Linked DNA regions of Homo sapiens: region 2 is linked to region 1. The links come from fine-mapping of genetic effects on gene expression. A gene starts in region 1. The other region holds a variant in brackets. All regions are shown on one strand. Distances are from middle to middle. Region 1 holds the start of TMPRSS7 (transmembrane serine protease 7). Region 2 overlaps TAGLN3 (transgelin 3).

Evidence for each region. PIP is the estimated chance that this variant, and not a neighbour inherited with it, causes the effect. A credible set is the group of variants that fine-mapping cannot tell apart.
Region 2: its variant is the best candidate, but not a certain one, in a credible set for the expression of TMPRSS7 in prefrontal cortex (CommonMind, PIP 0.51).

Annotation. Positions count from the first base shown.
Region 1 is chr3:112,031,353-112,036,733 of GRCh38, reverse strand. It overlaps TMPRSS7 (transmembrane serine protease 7), which reads right to left and starts at 1,998. Exons shown (of 18, transcript NM_001395507.1): 1 at 1,841-1,998. The coding sequence starts at 1,888. It also overlaps the pseudogene LOC124906250.
Region 2 is chr3:112,009,122-112,014,502 of GRCh38, reverse strand. It overlaps TAGLN3 (transgelin 3), which reads right to left. Exons shown (of 5, transcript NM_001008272.2): 4 at 2,638-2,740; 5 at 618-1,093. The coding sequence ends at 952. Among named protein-coding and RNA genes, the nearest start is that of TAGLN3, 13 kb to the right of the region's middle. The variant C/A (reference allele first, on the strand shown) is at 2,759.

The DNA of each region.
Region 1 (5,381 bases):
TTTCCTCAACTCTCCAACTCTGTTGAATAGATGCTGTGGAGGAGAGGCCTGAATTTCATGGGGTAAAGTAGATTAGAGGACTTGAAGGTTAGGAGGTTAAGGTTAAGATTCTATGTGGGTAGAATCATGTGTGTACACAGCCCCTCCCCCCTCCTTTTTTTTTTTTTGACAGAGTTTTGCTCTTATTGACCAGGCTGGAGTGCAATGGAGTGATCTTGGCTCACTGCAACCTCTGCCTCATGGGTTCCAGCGATTCCCCTGCCTCAGCATCCCAAGTAGCTGGGATTACAGGCACTCACCACCACACCTGGCTAATTCTGTATTTGTAGTAGAGATGCGGTTTCACCATGTTGGTCAGGTTGGTCTTGAACTCTTGACCTCAGGTGATCCACCCACCTTGGCCTCCCAAAGTGCTGGGATTCCAGGTGTGAGCCACTATGCCTGTCCACAGTCCTTTTAGTATATGTGTGTGTTTCACATGTTTGTATTATATTGTTTTTCTCTCACAATCAATTATTTCTGGGCTGATGCAGGATTGAAAATAAGAAGATAAGTGAGTTCCCCACAGAAATGAATTGATTTCCTAGTTACAGCTTCATGACTGGGTGGTAGGAAGGAAAAGTAAAGGTGATATGATAATTTGCATAGATTGTACAAATTTGTGCAATTTGTAACTGCACAAATTGTTCGTAAAGCATGTGTGTTTACATACGGTTGTAGGGTTGTGGGTTTATAGGAATTAAATATGTTTGTTTTGCCATTGCCAGCCGCTGCCATTGCCAGCCACAGTTTCTCAATTATAAATGAAATAATTATTTAAAAGTAAATGGAAGAATGAAATAGAACACTCATTAGATTAGAAAATTGTTGGTTTAAGTGTATTGATGTGCATAGTGTTATGTGCAAGAGTAAAAAATACATTATTTAATTGTTTCCCTTCCTCCTCTTTTATTTTCTTGTCTACCCTCTGCTATTTGATGCTGTGAATTCTTTAATAATGTATTCAAGAGTTTAGCTTCATTTAAGGAGAGATTTATACAAGTCAGGGTAACTAAACTCCAGAGACGAAATAGCTTTTAACCACACATTCTTTTAAAGGCAACAATATGGAATGCCAATGCCAAAGAAATAATCTCTCTTTTGCACTGTCCTTAAGAGTTCTCTCCTTCTCTTTTCCTCTCCCTCACTCTTCTCTTCAAAATTCATGCCCTCCAGTCTTTAATCTTGCCAATTAATGGGATAATACGTGGCCACGTACACTCTGAATTATTCATGGCCCCTTCATTCTTTTTGCCAAACACCTTGTCAACCCCTGGAGTGAAGTGTTGCTTGTATCCTTTCTGGTGAAATTGAACTAGACCAGACATCATTTAATGTGGTGTCCTGCAGGAATGAGGACTGGGTTTCTAAAGAGAGAAACATTCCATTGTAGAATGAGTTGTCGATGGTATCAAGCTACTTTCAAGTGCTCCCCCAAAAGAAATAAAGAAACACGCAGAAATGCCAGTACATGTTGAACTGACAAAGCCAAGTTTGGATCTTTTAAGTGCAGAAACACATTATAGGCAGTCTCAGTTAGCACTGATTAAATTTTAAAATGGAATTTGTGTAGAGATCAGTACAATTTCCCTGGAGTTTTAGAAAAACGGCTACAAATCAATTGCCAAGTACAGCACTTTATAATAAGCTCACATTTGTAAAACCCATTAATTACCATAAGAAGATAAAATATTTTATTATTGTTTCCTTTATGTTTATAAGGTCATACAATCTCATTTTACTAACAGGGTCAACAATAAATGGCATTCAAGTAAGAGAAAGTTTCTCACCCTGTACTTACTTTCAGGTCAGCAGGTGCGGCTGAAACATCGCTGTTTTCTTTGTCCATTATTAGGCGTTTTGTGTGTGATCATCCAGGGGTGTCTCAAAGCCAGTTTTTGCCCCTTATATGCTCTCTTGAGAAGAATTGAGAGAACCGTCACCGCATTCAAGCTAGCTTTCAGAGGAGTGGAATCAATTTACCTCCACCGGGTTCAGTTCAGAAACTGAAGCCGCCTCATTGCTATATTGTAAATGTTAAAGGGACCTAGCACTCAGCTTTGCACCCCAAACTCAAGGATTCTCAATGTAACTTTCATAGGAGTCAGGCCTCTCAGAGTACAGCCAGCCTCAAGGCAAGGTTTTCTTATAAGAAACACAATCCTACAATCCAGTAACATTTAAAAATCATTATAATTTTTTTCTTGCATCTCCTAAAGAATATGAAGAGGTCTAATTTACAACCCTCAGCACCACATCTGAGAAGTCCTCACACCTCATTTCTCTTGCGTGGCATCTCTTGCCTGCTCCAGGAGACTCACTCTTCAGTCCTGCTCTCAACTCTCCAGCCATACTCTCTGAGAACTCATAATCCAAAGGGACTTTTTTCCATTTAGCTCCCCCTACTTCTTGCAGTCAGTCCTCAGTAAACCTGGGGCCCTTTCTGCTGTAAAGCCCCTGTTTCCATCTCTCCCATACTTCCCAATGTCAATCTGAATTAGATCCATGGTGGGAAGAATAATCCAATCCTGAGGGGCAGTGTCAGAATTTCTCTTAGCAGACGGGGAGAAAAAGGCAGGGATTGCTGGAACCTCATCACCCTGTGGGCACTGGGTGTCAACAGAAAGCTGATCTGTCACGCTTTAAAGGAGAAACACTGTTCTGCTGATCCAGACACAAACTTCAGCATCATTCACGGGCTGTGCATATGGCAAGTGAGAAACTGCCTGCTGAAAGTGGGGAAAGATTAGTTGAGTTGCTTCATACCTGAAATTTGATCTAACTTGGGGAAGATGAGACAGAATAACAAAAAAAAAAAAAAAAAAAAAAAAAGAATTAAGTCATGTACAAATTCGCCTCTTGGGTTTTGTTATTTATTATTCACATTGATGAAATTATTAATAATGGTTTAGACTTTATAATATTACTTTTAATGGCTCATCTTTCCAGTATTATTTCTCTACCTATTTCTAGAACTAACTCATATTTCACCAATATAAGTAAAATTTGTATACTTATCGGTGGCCATTGACAAAGACTCTCTTCTTGACCAAAGTGTTGTCAGGTTACTCTGAGCTCTCTTTTCAACTAGACCTTGTCCTTGGGCCTTGTCTTTGGCCCATCTGGTCAGTTTAGCAGGAATCCCCCCGCCTTGATATCTGATCACCCTTGATTTTGCTTTCTTTTTCTTTTCTTTCTTTCTTTCTTTCTTTTTTTTTTTTTTTTTTTTTTTGATTCAAGAGTGGCCTTGAAATACCCTTGATATCTGATCAAGTTCTTTATCCCCTACCCTTGATATGTAAGTCCTTGGCTGCCTGTAACAAGAATCCTGATTGGTCAGTTTAGCAAGGATGCCCCTTGGTGTTTCCCCTTAGTAATTTTCCAACCATGGACCCCCTCACTCTCTTCATTGACTACTAATCCCCAGCTTTCTTTGCTGTATTTGGAACTGAGTTCAGCTCTATATCGAATTCACTTTCTCCCGTTGCAACAGTGCTGAAGAAAATCTGTCTTTACAGCCTTTAACTAGTGTCCCCCCATCCTTTTTTCCCTTTCACACCACCAAGTGTGAAAAGTGGCAGCAAAATATCAGGAGGCTGTGTTAAATGTACCAAATTTAAAAGCAATCATAAAACCAACCAAAGGCTGCTTTTTCACTATCATCATGCCAGCAATTCTAAATAATGTCAGTGACAAAATACTCCTCTCTAAAAAAAAAAAAAAAAAAAAAATTGCCATGAGTTCTAAACAATCACTGCCACTACAACTGTTTGAATAATACTTATTTAAGTGTATAATGAGCAATTCCTATTATTCATTTTTTAGTAAGTGATGAATGTCATGCAGAAATTAATTTGGAAATCTCCCAACTGTAAAGTTGGTCTCAAACATGTTGTGGGTAACAACTATCTGGGGCCAGTGGTGCAGGTGGTAAAGGAATTTCCCAAGACAGTTGTAGGTAAAGAAAGGTAGATTTATTAGAGAAAGTAAGAAAATACATTGCAAGAGAGCAACAGGCAGATCAGCAAGAGAGGAGCTGGCTGCGAGGAGACAAAGGCTGGCTCGGGATTTTACAGGATGGTGCTTGTGCTCAAGAGGGCCACGTGGAGTGCTGATAATGCCAAGGTCACAATGAGCTAACTTGCATTTTTCTATCAGTCAAGGGTCTGGTGATTAGTCGGGTGCAGGAAGATTGTGAGTTATTTGAGTTACTTGTGCAGGAGGGCTACATGTCTTGGACCATGAAGAAAGGCAGACTTACAGCTCATTTGCTTTCTTCTTTTTGCTTTCCCCTGCTTCCACCAGCCCGACTCCTTTTCCCTAATTAGGACTCCACAGAATACAAGATGACTGTGACACATGTTCATTTCAAGAGTAAGCTTCTAATGGTCTGGAATCATTTGCACATACTTAGGGCAGAGTCCTTGCCTCCAGCAATCCCTGTGGGATTACATATTGCTGCATTTAAAGGGAAGGTTCAAAACAAGCAATAATAGCACAATGATTGTAAAGACCAAGAAACAGAATTTCAGTTATTTCATTTGTCCTTCTATGTGACCAATGAGTTAATTTATATTTAAAATTTAATACAGTTACAGGGTATGAATTGCAAGGTGTAATATTTTTATATGTAATATTCTGTATGCAGTATGTATTTTGTTAATTTTATTTTTGCTAGCATAATTATATATACAAAGTTGACTAAAATTTTTCACTTTTTTTCTCATCAATATTATTATTAGTTTTATTTCATGATTCCTCCTGAAAACAATTTTACTGTATAGGAGAAGAGATTGTTGAGAAATGATCCACTCCAAGGAGAAGCAGCCCCTGAGTAGCTGGGCAGCTTCTGTAGGGTCAACAGTGTGAAGGACCTACCACAGGGTGTCGTTGGCACCGCCTGGTAACTGGTGATTCCATCGGCCAGCAGAGCTCATACCCACATTCCCAGATTAGTCCACGGGGTCCAGGTACTACCTCGACTGTGGCTCTTCCAGATGCATGGAGGCTGCACCACCGCCCATGCCCTGAGTGCATGGTATCAGAGGCACAGGCCATACTTCTGCTGGAGCCAAGTGGTGCAGAGCCTGGGCCACTGCTCCAAGTAGCTGGGCCTCCCCACAGCTAACTATCCAGAATAAGTGGTAGATAACCTTCCAACTGGTGTATCCACATCATTTATCATGGTTGGGCCAGTTTGGAAGTGGAAATGTCCATAAGATGGTGGTGAACATAGGGTGGAATCCATACTGCAAAAATACCCAAAAAATCCACAAAAACTCCTACCATGCATGCCTTTAAAGAGGACTTCTGGCTGGGCACAGTGGCTCATACCTGTCATC
Region 2 (5,381 bases), 22 kb after region 1:
CAAATCGCAATACCAGGCAATATCCTAGGGTTTTCAGGGTTTAGACCCTTTAAATGACTTTAGGAGAGCAAACTACATTGTCTATAACTCCTGGATGATGAAAAAAACTGTATAAATGTCAGCATCGGACCTAGGGTCTCGTCTGTAAGAGGAAGATGAATGCTAGAGAAGTGAAAACTGCTCATTCATCCAGTCATCTACCCACCCATCCATTCAATAAAACCATCCACCCATCCATTCTTCCTTCCATCCATTCAACAGATACTTCCTGGGCACCTATACAAGAGCTTCTCAAGAAACCGGGCTTTGTCTCCCGGGCTGTGTCCTCTACAGGTCTAGCACAATAAGCACAAAGTACATGCTCAAAAACTTGTTGTGGTCAAAGACTTTGTTCTTGAACTTATGTCTCTAGGCTCTCAGAGTGGGCGAAATGACTCCTAAACTTTCTATTCCAATTGCCAAGATAAACGCGATAATCTTGCAAGAGCGTCCTCATAGCTAACCTATATTGCTCAGCTGCAGCTTAAGCTTAATTCCATCTTTCTGGCCTTTGAATGGAAGAGAAACCAGTCCGGACTGTGGAGTCCTTAAGAGAAAGAATGAACTTTACACTGTAAGACACAAGACTAATTACTTTATTAGGTGCATTCTATAAGTTGAAGAGGAGAATTTTTGGCAAATAAATAAATAAATAAATAAATAATCAAACAGAGACTCTGGGGCCCGAGGAGCTCAGGAAAACGGAAGCGGAGTCTTTGCATAGTTCTAAATGAACAGGAGGTGGCAGCAGTAGGCAACGCGGATTCTCGGCGGAAATGCAGCACTTGCAAAAACCAGGGACAGAAGGCTTTGAGAAAGAGGAGAAGGTCAGAAGGTGACTAACTATTTCTTTTTCGTAGAGACCATGGTGTGGAACATTCGTCCTCTCTACCAGGGGCAGGATGCCGCGTCCTACATGATCTGCCTGGGCATCCCGTACCCTGTCATGCCCGCCTGGGAGGCTCCCTTGTTGCTGCCCATCTGCAGGCCTATTACGTTCTGTCCCTGGCGAAGCTGCTCCTCGGAAAAGCCTCTCCGATTCTGCTGGGCTTTCCTGGACAAGGAAAGTGAGAGGGAATAATGTCATTATGACAGTTTTCCAATCCTTTTCAAGATATGCAATTAGACAGGCTCTGCTGGGGGTCCCCAAATAGATCAGCAGGTCCTACCCTGAGCTGTGGTTATGAGCTATGGCCCTACTCTGAGCTATGGCCCTACCCTGCACTGTGGACCTACCCTGAGCCGTGGCGCTACTCTGAGCTATCTCTGGCCCTAGCCTGAGCTGTGGCCCTACCATGATGCATGAGCTCCCTATCTTTTAGAAGCCCAGGTGTTTTCCAGAATTCCAGCAAAGAGTAGGGCAGAATCAGTGGCTACCTCTCTGGGGAATTCACTCTCAGCTTTTCTTGTTTCTCTTTCTCCCCACTCTCCCTTCTTCCCCCACCACTTTAGGCCATCTCAGACTTCTAAGAAGAAGCCTGCTTCTTCTTACCCTTTCTCTCACAGCTACGTCAAGCCTTTGTGAAAATTAAAATTGGTTCTTCTTACAAAGCACATCATTAATCCCATTCCCCCTTTCCCTGTATAGGGCCAAGATGAATATACCCTTTTAGAGCCAAGGGACCTAAGAGTTAATGAGGGGAAATGTCGCACTCTAGATTAGAGGTCTGCAAACTTTGGTAAAGAGCCAGATAGTACATAATTGTGGTTGTGTAGCCACATGGGAACACGGTAGTTCACTAATAATACAGACACTAAAACCAGGGTTTCAAATGGCCAACCTCTCAGAAGTTTTCAGGGCGAGTGTTCTTTAAAATGACATAAGCTGGTAACTTTTTTTTTTTTAATAACTGTCAAGGAGAAGAAAAGGGGATGCTGGAAATGAATAATCAATTATTTGCCACAGGGCACTCTTCTACAACTAAATTACCCAGTTTAAGCTTCCTGCCTACCCTACCCCCTGAAAAAAAAATCATTTTAAAAAAAGACCCTTTACTGAGAGATAACCATATAATTTGTCATCCGGACTAGGACGCTGTTGAGAGTGAAAGAGAGTTCTATTAATAGATATACTGGGACAACATAGATATTAACCATGACTGTTCCAAACAAACATGACATATTTACCCTTTATTAAGTACACAAACAAAAAAGAAGGAAGGAAGGAGGGAGGGAGGGAGGGAAGGAGGAAGGAAGGAAGGAAGGAAGGGAGGGAGGGAGGGAGGGAGGGAGGGAGGGAGGGAAGCAGCCAGGCAGGCAAGAAAGCTCAGAGCTGGCTTAAGTCATAATAAAGCCAAGTTCAGACATGAAGCCACCTTCAAGAAAGGCCATCCAGTCCTGCTGAGCCTCAGGAGAAACAGAACCTGGGTGGAGCTGGGAGGTATCTGGTAGAAAAGGCCCAACCATTTCTGCTCTGGTTAGGTTACTGGCCTGTACAGAAGCATCAGTCTTTCATTGCTTTGGGGAACTCAGTTGTGGAGACAGCAGTGCTTGGTCCTGGGGCTTTGCACATAAAGCCTCTGTAGAGTTCCAAGGCTTCAGACCCTCCCTCTGGTTAAAATCGCCTTGTGGTCCAGGGGGCAAGGAAGAGGCTTTTACCTGTGAAACCAGGATGGCTCTCCCCGATAGCAGCCATCATCCTTGGTGACTGCAACGCTGCCTAAAGCCATCAGGGTCCTCTGCACAGCTGCCATGTCCTTCCCTGGAAGCCAACAAAGAG[C/A]TTAAAGCCAAGCACGTGTCAGAGCCAAGGAATGCTGGAAGGATACGGCTGGACACCCAGGAGGGAAGTTCTGATAGAAGGCTGCAGGTGACCAGATTCAAGGGAGCAGTGCTATCAAACACCTCCCAAAGTGGCCCTAAGACAACCATACCCAAACTTCTCAGAAAGGAACAAAAAGTAACCTGGTTAATTATTCTCTATATGGTACATACCAGAGATACCAAGTTTCTAATCCGTTCATAGTTGCTGTATAAATAAAATCATCCATGTGCATCAAATTGAGTATTCACTTTGCTCTTTGGGCCAGAGGCCTGGCAAATGAAGAACAGCAAATCAACACAGAAAGCACTCAATGTGACACAAGTGATAGGGCCTTTATTTTGTGCCGCTTGAAAACAGCTAAATGGAGACAATAAACAACTGGCTTGTGTGTGACAGAGAGGAGAGCAAGGGAGAGGGATGTGCAGTGTGGCCCCTGCACAGTGGGATGGGGAGCCCTGTTACCTAAGCAGCCCAGTGACCATTAACCCATGGAGAAAGCAACTGGGCCTTACAACTCAGCCTTTCCTCCCATTCTTTCTCCTTTCTTCTCTTCCAGTTGACTGACCTGTCCTAAACTGAGAAGATGCTACTGAGGGGGTGGCCTGCAATTTAGAATCAGACCAAAAGTCCATGCAAGGCACCAGTGTGGAATACAAAAGCTAAAAAGCATAGGGTTAAAAGGGAAGGCAGCATCTAACCTGGCGGGGAACTGTGAAAGTTAAGGGCAAATATTAAGGCTCTCTTTAGACCTGGTGAACCGTCTGCAGTTTTTTGGCCCAGCTGCTGCAGCTCAGTCTCTGGGGAATACAGAATTACAGGGGAAAGGCAGATGGAAAGTGAGAATGGAGTATGAACTGTAATAAAATAAACAATTAAGGCCTTCAGAGGAAGTCCAGCTCAGGATCTTCATTTATTCGAAGAGGAGAGACAGAAAGCTGATCCTCTCTCCCCTCTACCCCCACCTCCCATGTTAACCACAGGGTGATTGCCTGAATCCTGAGGCCCTGTGGGACTGGTTGGTGAATACAAGGATAAAATGCTGTCAATGGATAGTCCCCCAGACTCAAGGAATAACTGGGGTGGTGGAGAATGAAGTATTTCAGAAGCAGACAGAAGGGAGAAGGCATAAGGAATATTCAGAACTAAGAAGAAACACAGAAGTTGTTGTTAGAATGACTCTTCCACAGGTGAAAGCATTTCTGTAATTGTCACCATATAATGGGACACTTTTTAAAAAATATAAATGTAGTAATGATATTCTGAAGGTTCATTCTGTGAAGAGATAGGGAGAGGACTTGCTCTTAGGCAGTGAACTATTAAAGGGAACCTAGAGAAATAAATGAGCAAAGGAAGGCTTAGGTTAGGGTATATCACTCATCTCTACTGTTTACAAAGAGCACCCTGGATACTTGTTTCTGGTGGTTGGAAAGAGCTATTCTGATATGTCCAGGATCTGGGAAAATGTGGGGCCTGACATCCAGCAGATCACCCACAGACACTACCCTGGAGCAACGGATGAAGAAGCAAAGTTTTATTAAACTATAGAACTAGACTCCTTCAAAGTAGCTAGTTCATCCCTGGTATCCCTGCATCTAGAAAATTCCCAACACTTAGTTCCCTACTTAGTTCCCTTTGTCCTTTCTGGGTTCATGTAGTAGTCTATATAACACTTCTTATATATAAGACTATATATAAGAACTTATAAGAACTAACACTTATATGTAAGTGTTATATATAACACTTCTTATATAGACTACTACATGAACCCAGAGAGGACAAAGGGAACTAAGTTGCCGGCTAAGATAAGATATCCAGGAGCCTAGAACTATCAACACAACTCCACCCTCATCCCAGGAGAGTGGAAAAGGAAGTGATTACACTTGAGAAAGAAGCCACTAGGGAAGCGGGCATTATTTGACAGGAAGAAATTGGAATTTTTTCCTTAAGAAACTTTCCAAAGCAAGATATTTGATGTAAATTATAGGGTAGACACTGTATATGTCATCTCAACCTCATGGAATTGGGATTATTCCTCCTCATGTGTGGACGAGAAAACTATTTCAAAGAGGTTAATTAACATGCCCAGAGTCACCCAATCAGTTAACAGAGCCCAGCTCTAGATCAGACCTGTCTGAATGTAAAGCCCTTGAACAATCCACCATGCCACTCTGCCATCTCCCATGGCACCCCATTGCAGGCTGGATGAGGAGCACATTCCTCAGTAGGAACCAGCGATCAGGGATGATCTGAAAGGGTCATGATGACTGTTTTGTGCCAGGCCAGAGGGGACACTGAGGGGAATAAAACTGGAGCACAGATTTCAGGCCCTGTAGAATCAAGGGCACCAACCTCAATGCCCATAAGTCTTTGAGTGTTTTTGTCTAGGTTTCTCCATGTCTTCATCCAAACAAGACTGAAACAAAGAAAAGCAGTTAGGGCCTCACTACTGATGTTCTGGCCAAGTGATATCATTTGGATGTTTTGTCCTCTCCAAATCTCATGTCGAAACGTGACCTCCAATGTGGGAGGTGGGCTTAGTAGGAGGTGTTTGGGTCGTGAGGGCAGATCCCTCATGAATGGC